Regions from separate parts of the Homo sapiens genome. Here region 2 is linked to region 1. Evidence: fine-mapped expression QTL. Tissue or cell type: whole blood. Region 1 holds a variant in brackets; the other region holds the start of a gene. All regions are shown on one strand. Distances are between the middles of the regions. Region 1 overlaps ZNF264 (zinc finger protein 264). Region 2 holds the start of ZNF264 (zinc finger protein 264).

Region 1 (8,336 bases):
CTGGGCTTTTTTTGTTTGTTTGTTTTGAGATGGAGTCTCACTCTGTCACCCATGCTGGTGTGCAGTGGCGTGATCTTGGCTCACAGCAGCCTCTGCCTCCCGGGTTCAAGCGATTCTCCTGCCTCAGCCTCCTGAGTAGCTGGGACTACAGGTGCCTGCGACCACACCCAGCTAATTTTTGTATTTTTAGTAGTAGTGGGATTTCACCATGTTGGCCAGGATGGCCTCCACCTCCTGACTTCATGATCCACCCGCCTCGGCCTCCCAAAGTGCTGGGATTACAGGCGTGAGCCACCGCACCTGGCCTACCTGGGCTTTTTTGGACAGATGTACATGATTTTAGAAATTGTTATGAATGACTGTCTTGGGATCCTCAAGAACACCCCCAGGTTTGACGATTTGCTGAGAAGACTCAGGTCTCAGCATTCTGTCATACTCAACAGCTATGATTTACTGCAGCAAAAAAATACAAAGCAAATAGTAAAGGGAAAAAGCCAAAATTCAGAGAAAACCAGGCACAATCTTCTGAGTCTTGTTTCAGTGAAGTCACAGGATGTGCCTTATTTAAGTTCCATCTGGTACTTATGACAACACATGCTATATGTCCACTGGGAAGCTTATTAGAGACTCAGTGCCAGGGTTTTTATTGGGCATGTTTTCTAGCACATCCCACAATTCTGGACTTCCAGAAGGTTAGCAGGGGTTCAGCTTTTCAGCTGAAAACGTTATCCCCCTTTCAGCTGGGGGGAAAAAAAGGCACCGAAAAACAGGGCAGTGAGCTACTCCTGTTTTGGGTGGGTGGAGCAGTAGTAAGCCTCCCAAAATCTAAGGTCCCACACTCCAGCAAGGGTGAACCTTGCAAACTCAAAAGGATAGCAGTCTCCAACCTGCTGTTTTATACAGTGACTTAAGTGGTACTAAAATGCTATATAAGTCAAATTTACGTAACATTAAGCAAATAATTTTTTTTCAGCAAAAAAATAATGGTCATGACTTTGTGGTGAAGGCTTATGTAATGATTGTAATAAATTCAGGTGGCTCACGCCTGTGATACCAGCACTTTTGGGAGGCTGAGGCGGGTGGATCACTTGAGGTCAGGAGTTTGAGACCAGCCTAGCCAACATGGTGAAATCCCATCTCTACAAAAATGAAAAATTAGCCGGGCGTAGTGGTACATGCATTTAGTCCTAGCTACTTGGGAGGCTGAGGCAGGAAAATCGCTTGAACCTGGGAGGCAGAGGTTGCAGTGAGCCGAGATCATGCCACTGCACTCCAGCCTGGGTGACAGAGTGAGACTGTGTCTCAAAAAAAAAAAAAAAAAAAAAATGCCTCAGTTTTGTTAAGAGGAAAAAGCAAATCCTAAGTTACAGTGGAACTTATGAACACCCTAGCCTAGAGATTTAATTTAGTGATGAAAAGGTACAGAGAGAGTCTTTCAAGAAAGGACCTAGTCTGCTCGCGTTCTCTCTCTCTCTCTCTCTATATATATATATGTATATGTGTGTGTACATATGGACCACTTCAAGCTACACACACACACACACATATACACGTGTATGAATATATATATATGGCTATAAGTGGTGCGACTTGCAGGTACTCCCTTTGTTCACCTTTGTAAAGATGTTATTGCCAGTTCAGTGTGTATTTCTATAGTATATATGTAAACAATTTGTCATCCTTTTGTTGCTGCTTTTGAAACTAGTTCATGGCTTCAGTGGGGGAGAGATTTAAATAATATGGGTTTATAATTTCTGCATTATTAAATGCAGATAACTTGTGATTAAAGAGTATGTTATTGGAATCATGTTTGCCTGAGTTTTACTTTGGAGGAGTTGAACAGCTGACTCCAGCCGAGAGGTCCCCTACAGAGACGGGATGTTGGAGACCCACGGGAATCTGGCTTGTGGGAATTGCACAGCACCCTTTTTATCATACCGCAGCATGGCCTTTCCTGTCTCGATTGTGGGAAGCTGGAGTGCCTCTGCAATGTTCAGTAGTGTGCTTGGGTTTTGAGGGTCAAAGATTTTTAATCTTTGCCACAGGCATGTTACACATCTTAAAATTGTGTGGTCTCAACTGAACTGCTCCAAGGAGAAGAAACACTGCCTTGGGCGCCCAGTGTTGGATTACAGGTGTGAGCCACCACACCCAGGCTGTATTGCCACTTTCGAGCGAAGAAATGGGCAAGGCAGAATAAACAAGTTATGAATTGGCTAGTCTGAATAATTTCAGGGAGCTCCAGAGTATATAGACTGCTTTTAGCTAGTAACTAGTACTGGGGTACTAGTTCCCAGCTAAAAGTAACTGAGTAAGAAGGGGGATAGTAGCTCCACATGTGAGAACTTGCCAAAGACAGTTGAGGGGTAGGGCTGTGGAATGGCTGGTTTGCATGTGACAGGCAAGATAGCGGAGGAGAAATACCCTCTTGAGTAAGGGTTACGAGCCATGGGCCTTGTGTTGACTGGCCAGGTGACTTTAATGAAATTTTGTCACCCAGGCTGGAGTGCAGTGGCACATTCATAGCTCACTGCAGCCTCAATCTCTCGGGCTCAGGTGATCCTCCCGCCTCAACTTCCTGAGTAGCTGGGATTACAGGTGCTTGCCACCATGCCCAGCTGATTCTTTTTTTTTTTTTTTAAATCTAGAGATGAGATATCTGTGTTCGAAACCCAGTCTGGTGTCGAACTCCTGAGATCAAGTGGTCCTCCTGCCTCAGCCTCCCAAAGTGCTGGGATTACAGGCATGAGCTACTTTGCCTGGCTCAGCATGTGTTTTTATTCTGATATTTTGACAAATGAGACCTTGCTGATCCTGGAGACACTGCTCCTCTTAGAGGTAGCAAAAGTCTCCTCCGCTTTTGCTAAGTTATGAATTGCTAAGCCAATTCATAACTTGTTTATTCTGCCTTACCCATTTCTTCACTCGAAAATGGCAATACAGCCCGGGTGTGGTAGCTCACACCTGTAATCCAACACTGGGCGCCCAAGGCAGGAGGCTCACTTGAGGCCAGGAGTTTGAGACCAGCTTGAGCAACATAGCCAGACCCCATCTCTACAAAAAAAAAAAAAAAAAAAAAATTCACGGGGCACAATAGTGCACACCTCTAGTTGCAGCTACTTGGAGGCTAAGATAGGAGTGTTACTTGAGCCTGGGAGTTTGAGGCTGCAGTAAGCTGTGACTGAGCCACTGCACCTCAGCCTGGACAACAGAGCAAGACCCTGGCTCTTTAAAAATAAAATGAAGAAATGATAACACAGGCTTTACCCACACTTTCCCCTTCCTCCTGTCTCCTAACCAACCGTGAGTCTTCCCTGTTTAGCCCTGTGTGGCTTCATATACCCCCTCTTCATGGGAACTATGAGTTACACACTCATCAGTGGCAGTCTTCTGATCTGTTGGCATCGTCAACGCTAAATAATAAAATCTACATTTTAAAAAACCTACCTGAAAGCACTCATGAATTTCAAGAATTTAGCAAAGCAAATCAGCCATTTCCATGTCATTTCCAAAGAACTGTGTCAGTGCACCAAGCCAAATGTGATACTTAGGTTGGAACTCAGTGGACAGCCATGGAAGGAGGAGGGGGTCAATGCCAAAGAGGGGCTCTCCAGATGCATTGGTAGGACCCAGGCGTTTGAGGGACCATTGTGTTAGCAAAATCTCAACCATCTGAGGGGTTGGGGTTTTTAGGAAGGTAGCTCCTGATGCCCTTCTCATAGCCCGACACTCAAGAAAGCTCAAGCACAACTAATTGAGGGCCCCAAATACACAACACCTTCCGATATCATTCTCCCCGGGCCACTTCTTAATGTTTGCAAGTTTGAAGGAAGAATGCCATCTCCCGGCCCGACCACATGGTGTTTTCTTGATTATCCTCCCTTTCATGGGCATCCTCCCTCCTTTCTTAAGCCTTTAGCCATTTGTAGCTGTGTGGTCTTTCAACATCTCTGTACTCTTGTTCTTCCTAGTTCCATGTCCTGGCTCTCAGGTATAAGAACTCACATATGTTCAAAGTGTGTCTCTTGATCTTTGAAATTAGGCTTCAGCAGTGACAGTAATCTTTTTTCATCTCAGTTTCTTGACTTTTGGCATACATGTCATTTCAGCCACCTACAAGCCTATTTTCCATCTGCATGTTCTTTTGCTGTGTGTGTGTGTGTGTGTGTGTGTGTGTTTGACATAGGATCTTAGGCTGGGCGCGGTGGCTCACACCTGTAATCCCAGCACTTTGGGAGGTCGAGGCAGGTGGATCACTTGAGATTAGGAGTTTGAGACCAGCCTTGCCAACATGGAGAAACCCCGTCTCTACTAAAAATACAAAAAATTAGCTGAGTGTGGTGGTGCATGCCTGTAATCCCAGCTACTCGGGAGGCTGAGGCAGGAGAAATGCTTGAACCCGGGAGGTAGAGGCTGCGGTGAACCAAGATTGCGCCATTGCACTCCAGCCTGGGCAACAAGAGTGAAACTCCATCTCAAAAAACAAAAAACAAAAAAAAAATAGGGTCTTCTGATCATGGCTCACTGCAGGCTCAGCCTCCCAAGTATCTGAGACTACAGGTGCACATCACTATGCCCAGCTAATTTTTAAATTTTTTGTAGAGATGGGGGTCTCCCTGTGTTGCCCAGGCTGGTTTCAAACTCCTGGGCTCAAGCAGTCCTCCTCCCCTGGCCCCCAAAGTGCTGGGGTTACAGGCATGAGCCACCGTGCCTGGTCTTCATCTGCATGTTCTTTTGTCATTTTCAAACCCTTTCTGAATTATCCTCACACTTCTTGAGTATCAGACATCACCAGTCTGATCTTCCATATGTCCCTATGTCTGTATGGGCTTCTCCAGCTTTGAGTTCTTTGTCTTTTCCTCACTCTCTTCCTCTAA[T/A]GGAGGAGCCTCTTGGGGCTCATGTCACGCTCCCATTACCTCTTCCTTGTGTTATTTCTCTCCACGTCCCGCAACTCCCCTCTCCTTGTAAACTCCCCGGCTACAGCACCACGCTTTTTACCACTCTGGTGAAGGTCAGCAGTGGCTCCCTGTTTATGAATCCTAAGTCCTTGTCTTTTCTGGGCTATGGACAGGACTTGAAACTGTTGTTGTCCAGTCCTTTCTCCAGATGTACTCTTGGATTCTGTAAGGTTATGCTTCTGGTTTTCTCCCCTGCACCCTCTCACTCCTTTTCCCCTTTCATGTTGGTGCATCCACGTGTATCCAGCCATTTGGTGTTGAATTTTTTTTCTTTTTTTTTTCTCTTTGAGACAGAGTCTTGCTCTGTCTCCGGGCTGAAGTGCAATGGCATGATCTCGGCTCACTGCATCCTCCGCCTCCCAGGTTCAAGTGATTCTCCCGCCTCTGCCCCCTGAGTAGCTGGCATTACAGGCATCTGCCATTATGCCCGGCTAATTTTTGTATTTTTGTAGAGACGGGGTTTCACCATGTTGGCCAGGCTGGTCTTTAACTCCTGACCTCAGGTGATCCGCCTGCCTTGGCCTCCTAAAGGGCTGGGCTTACAGGCATGAGCCACCGTGCCTGACCGGTGTTGAAATTTCTAAGGCTTTGTCCCAGGCCTCTTTTTTCTCTTACTGGTCTCTCCCCAGGCCTCATCTGCACTCTTGGGTTCAGCTACCTACTTTAGTGAACATACCCTAAAACGTATTTCCCCAACCCTCATCTCATACAAGTCTTACTGCTCTCCTTTCACTCCATGCTTCCCTTTCCTTTTCCCACTCGAGATGGAGCTTCCACCACCTGCTTTGCCCAGTTAGCAAATGTGTATCCTTCATTTTGTCCCAGAGAGCACACCTTCACAGAAGCCCACTAGAGCACCCAGCTAGCTCATACCCATTCTTTCATGATTATCTATTGATTTGTTTGGTTATTGAATAATGACCGTATCCTGAACTCAATTTCCAGCTTCGAAAAAGCACAGACCTTGATCTAGATTTTCTCCTAATGTTCCATGTGCATAGTTTGTAGTCAATAGTATGTATTCAGATATTTGTTAGGTGAATGAGCCTTAATCATTTTTGACATTTTAGGTTATGTGACATTCTCTCCCCAGTACCACCTCAGGCTCGATGATTTGCCTGAAAGTCAAAATTCAGAAAAGAAAGTCACACACAACTCAGAAAAGCTGTTGTACTCATGGTTACAGTTTATTACCACAAAAGGATAGAGACCAAGATCACCAAAGGTAAAAGGCACATAGGAGGAAATCTGTGAGAAACCAGGCACAATTTTTTTTCTTTTTTCTTTTTCTTTTTTTTTTTTTTTTTTTTTGAGATGGAGTCTCGCTGTGTCACCCAGGCTGGAGTGCAATGGCACAATCTCGGCTCACTGCAACCTCTGCCTCCCAGGTTCAGGTGATCCTCTGCCTCAGCCTCCCAAGTAGCTGGGATTACAGGCATGTGCCACCACACTGGCTGATTTTTGTGTTTTTAGCAGAGATGGGGTTACACCATGTTGGCCAGGCCAGTCTGGAACTCCTGACTTCAAGTGATCCACCCGCCTTGGCCTCCCAAAGTGCTGGGATTACGGGTGGAAGCCACTGTGTCCAGCACAGGCACAAACTTAGCAGGTGTTCCCTCCCAGTGCAGTTGCACAAGGGCACACTGAATTCTCCCAGCAAAGTTGTGTGCAACACATTCACAGTATTGCCAGCCAGGGAAGCTCCCCCAAGCCTTGACGTCTAGAGTTTTCGTTAAGGGTCATTGAGGTAGGAATGCAGAACCCACATGAATAACCATAAATATCCAGTCTACAACCCTTGCAGAAAACAAACATATAGCATGGCCCAGGGCCTCATGCATGCAAAAGCCAGCATCCACCATGAATCATATTGTTAGCATAAATTATCTGGTCAAACGTGCAGCAGGACCTACTTATGGTTTTCGACATAAAAATCTTACCAGGCAAGATACCCCAAGAGGTTGTTTTCCTGAAGTTGGCCCTAATTCATTCTAGGGTCAGATATCAGATAGCTGCGGACAGTGCCTGTGTCCTAAAACCTGCCAACATTATTCACAGTAGCAAATCCTATTCTGTTTATGCTGCCCCTGCCCTGCCTTGCCTTGCCTTTCTGGTGGAAAACACAGCGCAGGCTCTGGGCCTTGCTTTCTCCTCTGCTGCTGCTTTCTAACCTGCTCTGGTGCTTCCACCCGCATGGTGTGCTCTGCCTCCTGTTTCTAGGGATCTCTTACTATAAACTTCCTCCATAATAATCACTTCTGTATCTGATTGTCACACCCTGCCTGACTAAATACAATCCCAGGTATATTCTAGAATACACAGGGAGCCTATTACAACATCCTTGGGCCAGGCGCAGTGGCTCGCGCCTGTAATCCCAGCACTTTGGGAGGCTGAGGCAGGACTGCTTGAGCCCAGGAGTTCAAGACCAGCCTGGGAAATATAGTGAGACCCCATCTTTAAAAAGAATAAATTTTTAAAAATTGGCTGGATGTGGTGGCATGCACCTGTGGTCCCAGCTACTTGGCAGGCTTAGGTGGAAGAATTGCTTAAGCCTGGGAGTTCGAGGCTGTAGTGGGCCATGATGGTGTCACTGCACTCCAGCCTGGGTGGAAGAGTGAGACTTTGTCTCAAAACTAAAAATAAAAATATGACCTCCTTACTGTGGCCTCCAGGACACTACAGAATTCACGTCCATCTATCTCTGTGATTCAGTTTATCTTCAGCTGCAGCCATACTAACCTTGTTGCACTTCCCCAAACACGACAGGATCCTCCTGCTTTCATTCCCTTGTCTTAGGTGCTCTCTCTATGAGACCCTGTTACCTCAGATGCTCCATTCCTCCAAGTCCATGCTCAGATATAACTGTCTTTTAGACATTTCCCAACTACTCTACCTCCCTCTAACCTTCTATATTGTTTACTTTTGTGGTTGTGGTTGTTCTTTTTGAGTTACTGATTGTTGGAATTAAAAGGTCCCCGAGGGCCAGGGACAGTGGCTCACGCCTGTAATCCCAGCAATTTGGGAGACTGAGGTGGGTAGATCATCTGTGGTCAGGAGTTCGACACCAGCCTGGCCAAAATGGTGAAACCCTGTCTCTACTAAAAATACCAAAATTAGCCGGGCGTGGTGGTGTGCACCTGTAGTCCCAGCTACTTGGGAGTCTGAGGCAGGAGAATTGGTTGAACCTGGGAGGCAGAGGTTGCAGTGAGCCGAGATCGCACCACTGCACTCCAGCCTGGGCGACAGAGTGAAACTGCATCTCAAAAAAAAAAAAAAATTCCTCAAGTACAGGAATGCATAATTATTTTGCTATGTACATATCTGATTTTTTAGAGCAGTGCCTGTTGCAAGATAGGCACTCAATCGATACTCATTAAA
Region 2 (8,336 bases), 33 kb before region 1:
ATGAAGCAGAGCAGGAGTTTCATGGACTGTACTAATTTATTTCATGATAAATAAAAATATTTTATTATATAGTATATTAAGCCATCTTAGAAGTCACTGTTGATGATTTTTTTTTCTCCATTAACTGTGGAGCCAAGAGGGTAAAAAGTATCTTTCATGAGTTAAGGATTCATGCAGTTGAGAAATGGAATTAGGGAGAAATGGAACACACACACACAAACACAGAGATTTATTTCAAGTACTGAATTTATTTTATTATTTTTTGTGTGTGTTTGAAACATTGCTGATTCTTTTTGTTTTGTTTTTGAGTCAGGAGAACTTTTTTTGTAAATCTACTTTCTGTCTCTATGAAACTTTTTTCTTTCCAGCTATTTATAGCCTTTAACAATTGAATATACATTTGTAAACAAAATTTGAGGGCTATTTCTCTCTCTGCCTGATTTCTCCAGAATTCAGAAACTATTTGTGAATATTCTTAATTCACGGCAATGTGGTTGTTTGCATATGTTCAATAAGAATCTGTTTTCTAGCTAGGTGTAGCATATGTTCAATAAGAATCTGTTTTCTAGCTACTTGGGAGGCTGAGGCAGGAGGATCGCTTGAGCCCAGGAGTTTGAGGCTGTAGTGAGCTATGATCGTGCCACTACACTCCAGTCTGGGTAAACAAGCAAGACCCTATCTCTATTTTTTAAAATCCATATTATTTTATAACACAATTGTAGGCACTGGGTCTTTTCCCAAGGCTTTGACAGGAATGGCATATTTTTAACTATGCGAGACTGCTTTGAGGAATTAAGACTGACTTTATGGGCCAGGCGTGGTGGATCATGACTGTAATCCCAGCACTTTGGGAGGCCAAGGCGGGTGGATCACGAGGTCAGGAGATCGAGACCATCCTGGCTAACATGGTGAAACCCCATCTCTACTAAAAATATAAAAAATTAGCCGGGTGTGGTGGCAGGCGCCTGTAGTCCCAGCTACTCAGGAGGCTGAGGCAGGAGAATGGCGCGAACCCAGAAGGCAGAGCTTGCAGTGAGCTGACATCACGCCACTGCACTCCAGCCTGGGCGGCAGAGCAAGACTGTGTCTCAAAAAAAAAAAAAAAAAAAAAAAAAAAGACTGACTTTATGGAGCTGATGGGAGCCCTTGGAAGGACTGGCCTCATATCTTGTGCACACAGTTCCTTTGTGGGGTTCCTGGCCTGTAGTAAATACAGTGTCATTTTCTGATAGGCCTAGGAACCTCAAGATGTTCTGGGGCCTCAAGAAAAACGGGTTTCACCCAATTCATGCAGGTATGTACAGGTGCAGACAGATCTTTGGCTGGGCTTAAGAGGTCTTTGGGTGTTGAGTCTGAGAGATTCCTTATGAGGGGTTCCAGCAAAGCCAATTTAGGAGGAATTGTATAAACAGTGATTCTTGCTGTAGTTTGGATAAGTATGGTGGGACTGAAGCTTGTTTTGCAGGTAAGTTGTTCCTGCTGTGATTTGCTTTTGATGGAAGTCAGGGACTAGAGAGAGAAAAACTGTTTCCAAAGAAAACTATAGTGCTGCCAGGTGCAGTGGCTCAACTTTGGGAGGCTGAGGTGGGCGGATCATGAGGTCAGGAGTTTGAGACCAGCCTGGCCAACATGGTGAAACCCCGTCTCTACTAAAAATACAAAAATTAGCCAGGCATGGTGGTGGGCACCTGTAATCCCAGCTACTCGGGAAGCTGAGGCAGGAGGATCGCTTGAACCTAGGAGGCAGAGGTTGCAGTGAGCGGAGATCGTGCCACTGCACTCCAGCCTAGGTGAAAGAACAAAACTCTGTCTCAAAAAAAAAAAAGAAAGAAAGAAAGAAAACTATAGCGTTAGATTAACCTTTGAGTTAATCTGAGTGGCCACGTGGTCATCTATGGTATGCAGCCACCCACAATACCCCTCCTCAGCATAAAGCAGCCAGAAAGATCACGTCCAGATTCCCCATGATTGAGGAATTGATAAATAGAAACAGGGAACTGAAACCAGCTCCAGTGTCCCATAGAACTGATATTTATGGTTTCTTTTGAATCAACACATTATAGACATTGAGCCTCCCCTTCCTAAAACTCGAGACACTTTTATTTGTCTTATCTGATTTCCTTTCTCAGGAAACCAAGCATCAGGCCTCCCAGATAGTATAAAGAAACTGAAACTTACTGGATTACCACATCTGGAAAAACGAGATGCTATACCCCTTACCCATGATGATTGCCTAACTGACCATCTGCTGCCTGTTGACCCATTCCTCTTCCTTACCCCTTCCTAATTCCTGTTTTCTCAAACATAGTTACACTTCTTCCCTGATGTATAAACCCCTAGTTTTAGTCAGTTGAGGAAAGAGATTTGAGATTGATCTCCCATTTTCCTCAGCTGCAGCACCGAATAAAGCCTTCATCCCTGACAATACTCATTGTCTTGCTGACTGGCCTTCTGTGCAGCAAGCAGCAGGATCTAGATGCAAGGACCTGGCCTTTCTGGTAATATTGTCATCAACCATTTAATGATGTAGACTTGGTCCCCGGCTCATGCTCTGTGTATTTTCTTCTCCATCTACATGCATTGCCTTGATGGTCTCACTCAATATCATGACTTGAAATAACAGTGTAAGGTAACTCCTAAATTCATATATTCATGCTCAAACCTTCTTCCAACATTCAGTCGTAAGTCGAATTGCCTGTGACAGAGATACTTTGTGGTTCTGTAGACATTTCAAACTAACCATCCTGAGCCTCCGAACCTCCTCCACTTGCAGCCTCCCCACCTCAGAAGTGGGCAAATCCACTTTTTGTGTGGTCTGGGCCAAATACATGACTCCCTGCATCACGTAGAGGCTGTGCTGGTCCAAAGAAGGCTCAAAAGAGGGCAGTTTGCGCACACAACGTGTCGGGGCAGGGCTTCCAGATGATCATTCGGCTTTTTTGTGTCTTCCAAGATGATGATCCGGGGAGGAGGGATGTGAAAGGGGGTCAGTCGCCAGGCGAGCTGAGGACCCAGTTCTGCGCCTTTGCCTGTGCCCTGACCTGAAGGAAAGTCCCTGTCTCCCGAGCTCCGATTTTCCCGAGAGAAGAATGCAATGTAACCCTTGCCCCTCGGTTCCCTCCCTCCATCCTTCCCCTCGAGTTGTGCCCACCGTAAAGAGGTGGGTCTGGAGCGTCTCCTCGGGTCCTGGAGTGCCTTTCCCTGGGAGGAAAACTTGCGCCGTGAAGCGTTCCTCCCGTTGTTGAACACATGAGGAAAACTACACTACTTAGAAGGCTGTGCATTATGCGTACGGCGGGAGCTGGGCCAACGACGGCCTAGGACGGGGACGTTTCCGACGGCTCACGCCGGTGGGGGCGGGACTTCCGGGTTGCTCGCTGCGGACGCCATTTTCTTCTGCACTTCTGTCTGGAGAGGTCTGTAGCCACTGAGGGCCCCGGTCGGGGCCGCTTTGCAGGTCCCTAGTCAGGACCGAGCAGGGGAGTAGGATAGGAATCCCCGCCGCACCTTTGTACGAGCCTGACCCCTTCCGTGGGTTTGTTCCTGGGTCGCCGTCAAGCTGCGGTCTCTCCTCCCCCGCCCTTCAGCCCCGCGGTCTCCAGGGGCGGCGCCCTGGGTCTGGAACGCGGTTGCCACCGAGGAGGCGGCGGCCCTGCGTCTGGAACGCCGTTGCCACCGAGGAGGCGGCGGCCCCGAGCGCGCCTGGAAGCCCCGGGCAACCGGCCAGGGTCGGGCACAGGTGGGGTCCGTCAGGCCGCCCGGGGCTCCTCTGTCCCAGCTCTGCGGCCCAGGGGGTGACGTGATGGCGGCAGCGGTGCTGACGGACCGGGCCCAGGTGAGTGGACGGTGGCTTCGCGGTTGCCGCTTCCTTGCCAGCGCTGAGGCGGTTTCCGAAGTGGGTGGGAGCCCAGGTATCCCCTGGATTTGTCTTCGCAGTCGTCGTTCGCTTTGGTGTGTGGAGCTGGTTTGCCACTTAATTTATACCTGGCCGTAAGGAGTGTTGGGCCTACTGGAAGGAGCTCCGTAGGTTGTTGAGTGAATGATGCTTCCTCTGGGGACTCCCATCATCCTTGGCCTGCAAGCATTCTCTGGTGGACCAGGTCTCATTCCAGCATGAATTGGGGGCCTGAGGGGGGAAGGGGAGGGCAGGGCAGTAGCAAGCCGACAAATGCGCGAGCAGAGACAAGGTATGTTGTATGTTTAAGGAGGCTCAGGAGGGTGTGTAAGGTTGCCATGGTTTTCCTGCGGCCGCTGAGACGTGGAGGGCAACAGTGTGTGGTCTTTTCCTGGATGTTCTAGCCATCCGCAACTACTGCAGACATTGTGGCCAGTCAGATGCCCTTACTCTCATCGCTACAGCCTGCATTATCCTTGGCCGCTCGTGTTCCGTGGCCCCAAAGTATCCTGGCGTCAGAGACAAGTTCTGTCGGAACCCAGTAAGGAAAGAGGCCGATGGTTGGTTCATTGTGGAATTTCCTTGGGGGATCTGGGAGACCCAGGGAGATCCCAGAGGGCATGGGAAGCTGGTCTGGAGCCTGTCGTTCCCCAAGTAGATGCAGCCCTTCCAGTGCCGCTCTGTGGGGTCAGTGAGGAATGCTGAGCTTTTTGTGCCCGTGTTCACATACTTTTTTTTGTTTTGAGACAGGGTCTCACTCTGTCGCCCAGGCTGGAGTACAGTGGTGCACTCTCAGCTCACTGCAGTCTCTGCCTCCCAGGTTCAAGCAATTCTCCTGCCCCAGCCTGCCGAGTAGTTGGGATTACAGGCATGCACTACCACACCTGACTGATTTTTGTATTTTAGTAGAGACTGGGTTTCACCATATTTGCCAGGCTGGTCTTCAACTCCTGGCCTCAAGCGATCCGCCCACCTCGACCTCCCAAAGTGCTGGGATTACATGCATGAGCCACCATGCCCGGCCCACAGATACGTTTTTCAGGGCTAATTGAAATAGACTTAATGTTAGAAATGAGTGGAAATGCTTATAACTTCATCGCATTAGATTTGCTTTGATGTTGGGGGAGTGTTGGAGTTACACTGTTAGACCGTGAATCATAGTAACCCCATGTTTAGATCCTATCTATGGTGGTGAGATGTGTGACTGGGTGAATTGATAGCGCTTCCTTAGCATGAAGTCATTGACTGTGAAGGTGATGATGGTGTTGACTGCAGGGACTGTGAAAGGATTAATAAAAATCCCAGAGCACACTGAGCATTGAATACTTTAAATTTAACAACTGTTACTGGTGGGAAGTGTTATTGTATTGATCCAGAAATCAAGGCTCAGAGAAATGAAATGCTGTCTTTGAGGTAAGAGCTGTCAAGTGTCAGTTTCAAGTGTTTGGAGCTAGGAACTTCTAGTCACTGTGTTTACACAGGATGTGAAGCCTTCAACATGGGGCAGGCACCTAGCTGGACCAGTGAGACTCAGGTACTGCCGTTGTAACCATTATTGCTATTATTACCATTTCCCCATTTCCCTGTCGTTTTAGAGCCCTTAGCTTCTGTATTTCACAGTCCACAAGTTGTTTCCGTTGTCCTGTGTCATTCTCTAACGGCCGTTAAATAGGAGGCTTCTCTCCTTTACTCTGGTATTATGTTAAAAGCATCTATCTTCCCTCTTGAGCCCAGCACAGAGCTAGGCCCTCAGGAGGTGCTCTGTGATTCAGGCCGCCATCACTGTACACCTTTTCCAGTGGAGCACAGTCTGTGATCTCATTCAGCAGCTGAAAGGCCAATACTACTAATTCTGTTTGACTTTCCAGGTGTCTGTGACCTTTGATGATGTGGCTGTGACTTTCACCAAGGAGGAGTGGGGGCAGCTGGACCTAGCTCAGCGGACCCTGTACCAGGAGGTGATGCTGGAAAACTGTGGGCTCCTGGTGTCTCTGGGTAAGGCCTTCCTTCCCCCTCCACCATGCAGGTGACCTGCCACTTCCTTCATTCCATCTTCTGACTCCAGGCCTGGCTGCACAAGAAGGCCTCTAGAATCTACCTTGCCTCTTTCCCACAGCTTTAGTCATTTTCCACAGTAACCTCTTCCTATCTGGTCTCCTATATCTCTGGGCTAAAGACAGGGTACTCTTTGGCTCCCAGCCAAAGGAGAAGGTGGTAAAAGGAAATGGGGTGTTTTGCAAACTCAAAGGTAATTTTCAGCTGTGCCTCATGAGGGGCTGGTGTAGGAACTGAGAACCACCACGATGGTGTCCTGGCTTCTCTGTCTGGGTCTGCTCATGTCACGTCTATTCTCTATGGCTTTTTCTGCCTTAGTGAGTTCAAGACAAGAGTGGCCACCTGGATTAGGGTTCTCTAAAGGGACAGAACTAATAGAATAGATATATATAAAAAGGACAGTTTATTAAGTAGTAATAACTCATGATTACAAGGTCCCACAGTAGGCTGTCTGCAAGCTGAGGAGCAAGGAAGCCAGTCCAAGTCCCAAAGCTGAAGAACTTGGTGTCCAATGTTCGAGGGCAGGAAGCATCCAGCATGGGAGAAAGATGTAGGCTGGTAGTCTAGGCCAGTCTAGTCTTTTCATGTATTTCTGCCTACTTTATATGCTGGCCTCGCTGGCAGCTGATTAGATGGTGCCCACCCAGATTAAGGGGGGGGTCTGCCTTTCCCAGCCCACTGACTCAAATGTTGATCTCTTTTGGCAGCACCTTTACAGACACACCCAGGATCAATACGTTGCATCCTTCAATCCAATCAAGTTGACACATTAATAAAAATCCCAGAGCACACTGAGCATTGAATACTTTCTCTTTAAATTTAACGACTGTTACTGGTGGGAAGTATTATTGTATTGATCCAGAAATAAAGGCTCAGAGAAATGAAATGATGTTTTTGAGGTAACAGCTGTCAAGTGTCCGTTTCAAGTGTTTGGAGCTAGGGACTTCTGGTGACTGTGTTAACACAGGATGGGAAGCCTTCAACATGGGCCAGGCACCTAGCTGGACCTAGCTGTTAACCATCACAACTCCATCCCTTGTCAACTTGAACCCATACACATCTCCTGAGATCATACATAATCTTCAAATAAAGACAATAAGGTCATAATTATGCTTAACATAATACAAGTATCGTTCATGCAACCGAAACACACTAATCCCCAACCCAAGTGCTATTACATAAAGGTAGCAATACTTAAATGCTGATATGAAGTCAGTAAATCTTACGTCACATGATAAAGGAAATAAAATGCAGATGTTTTCTTAGTACAAGTGTATACATCACAAACATGTTTTTAATAAAAGAAGGAGGAAATACAACAATTACAGTCCTCATTTCTGCAACTGGTCACTTGGTCGTAGTTGGTATTAATGACTACCTTCTTCTCCTGCACATTCTGTATTCACTTTGCCTTCAGCAAGCACCTCAGCAGGTCATGGTTTTTTTTCCTGGTGGAGTGACCCAAACCTTCATTCCTGAAGGGTCTGGGCCATTTGTAGTCCTGCCTGGATTGGGCTGTTGTAGCTTCCCATTGACCTTAATCACAGGGCATGGTAATACTAAGAGATGCCCTAATGGATCTTCTGTATTCCATGCATACTCTTCCTTACCTCCATTGTGGAGTAGTAGACTGATTTCATCTTGATAGTCTGGGTCATTCATCCCAGCCAACACTGTAACTCCCTTCTTAGGCTATTGACTTAAAGGTAGGAGGAGCCCAAAGTGTCCAGGTGGCAATCTTAACTTCCAGTTTAATGGAATCGTTGTGTCTCCTGGTGGCAGCATTCCTCCCTCTGAAACTAAGACTTCTAGGCCAACGGAATGTAATGTCGCGGGAATAGGAAGCAAAATTTTGCTAGTTGATCACTAGGGATGATGTTGAGTGGTGCCATTTGCACTTCCACCCCTTGATTCCTGGACCCATGAATCCTGGCTATGGGAGAAACAGTACCATATATTGGATGCTAATTCAGAGCATACATGGCCTACTGGAGAACTTTGCCCCAGCCCTGCAAAGTATTGTCACTAGTTGGAGTAATTATGACTACAAAAGGTCATTCCACCATTCTGTCAATCCAGTTGCTTCAGGACTATGGGGAACATGGTAAGATCAGTGAATTCTGTGAGCATGAGCCCACTGCTACACTTCTTTAGCCATAAAGTGAGTGCCTTGGTCAGAGGCAATGCTGTGTGGAATACCATTACGATGGATAAAGCATTCCATGAGTCCGTGAATGGTAGTCTTGGCAGAAGCACTGCGTGCAGGATAAGCAAACCCATATCCAGAGTAAGTGTCTATTCTAGTGAGGACAGACCTCTGCCCTTTCCATGATGGAAGAGGTCCAATATAATCAACCTGCCGCCAGGTAGCTGGCTGATCACCCCG

The links.
Region 2: it holds the start of ZNF264, and the variant in region 1 is fine-mapped to the expression of ZNF264 in whole blood (TOPMed, PIP above 0.99).

What each region holds. Positions count from the first base shown.
Region 1 is chr19:57,221,043-57,229,378 of GRCh38, forward strand. ZNF264 (zinc finger protein 264) reads left to right here. Exons shown (of 4, transcript NM_003417.5): 4 at 1-1,804. Among named protein-coding and RNA genes, the nearest start is that of AURKC, 5.8 kb to the right of the region's middle. The variant T/A (reference allele first, on the strand shown) is at 4,878.
Region 2 is chr19:57,188,112-57,196,447 of GRCh38, forward strand. ZNF264 (zinc finger protein 264) reads left to right here and starts at 3,389. Exons shown (of 4, transcript NM_003417.5): 1 at 3,389-3,835; 2 at 5,764-5,890. The coding sequence starts at 3,803. RefSeq lists enhancers at 3,225-3,284, 3,305-3,394, 3,405-3,464 and a silencer at 3,635-3,904.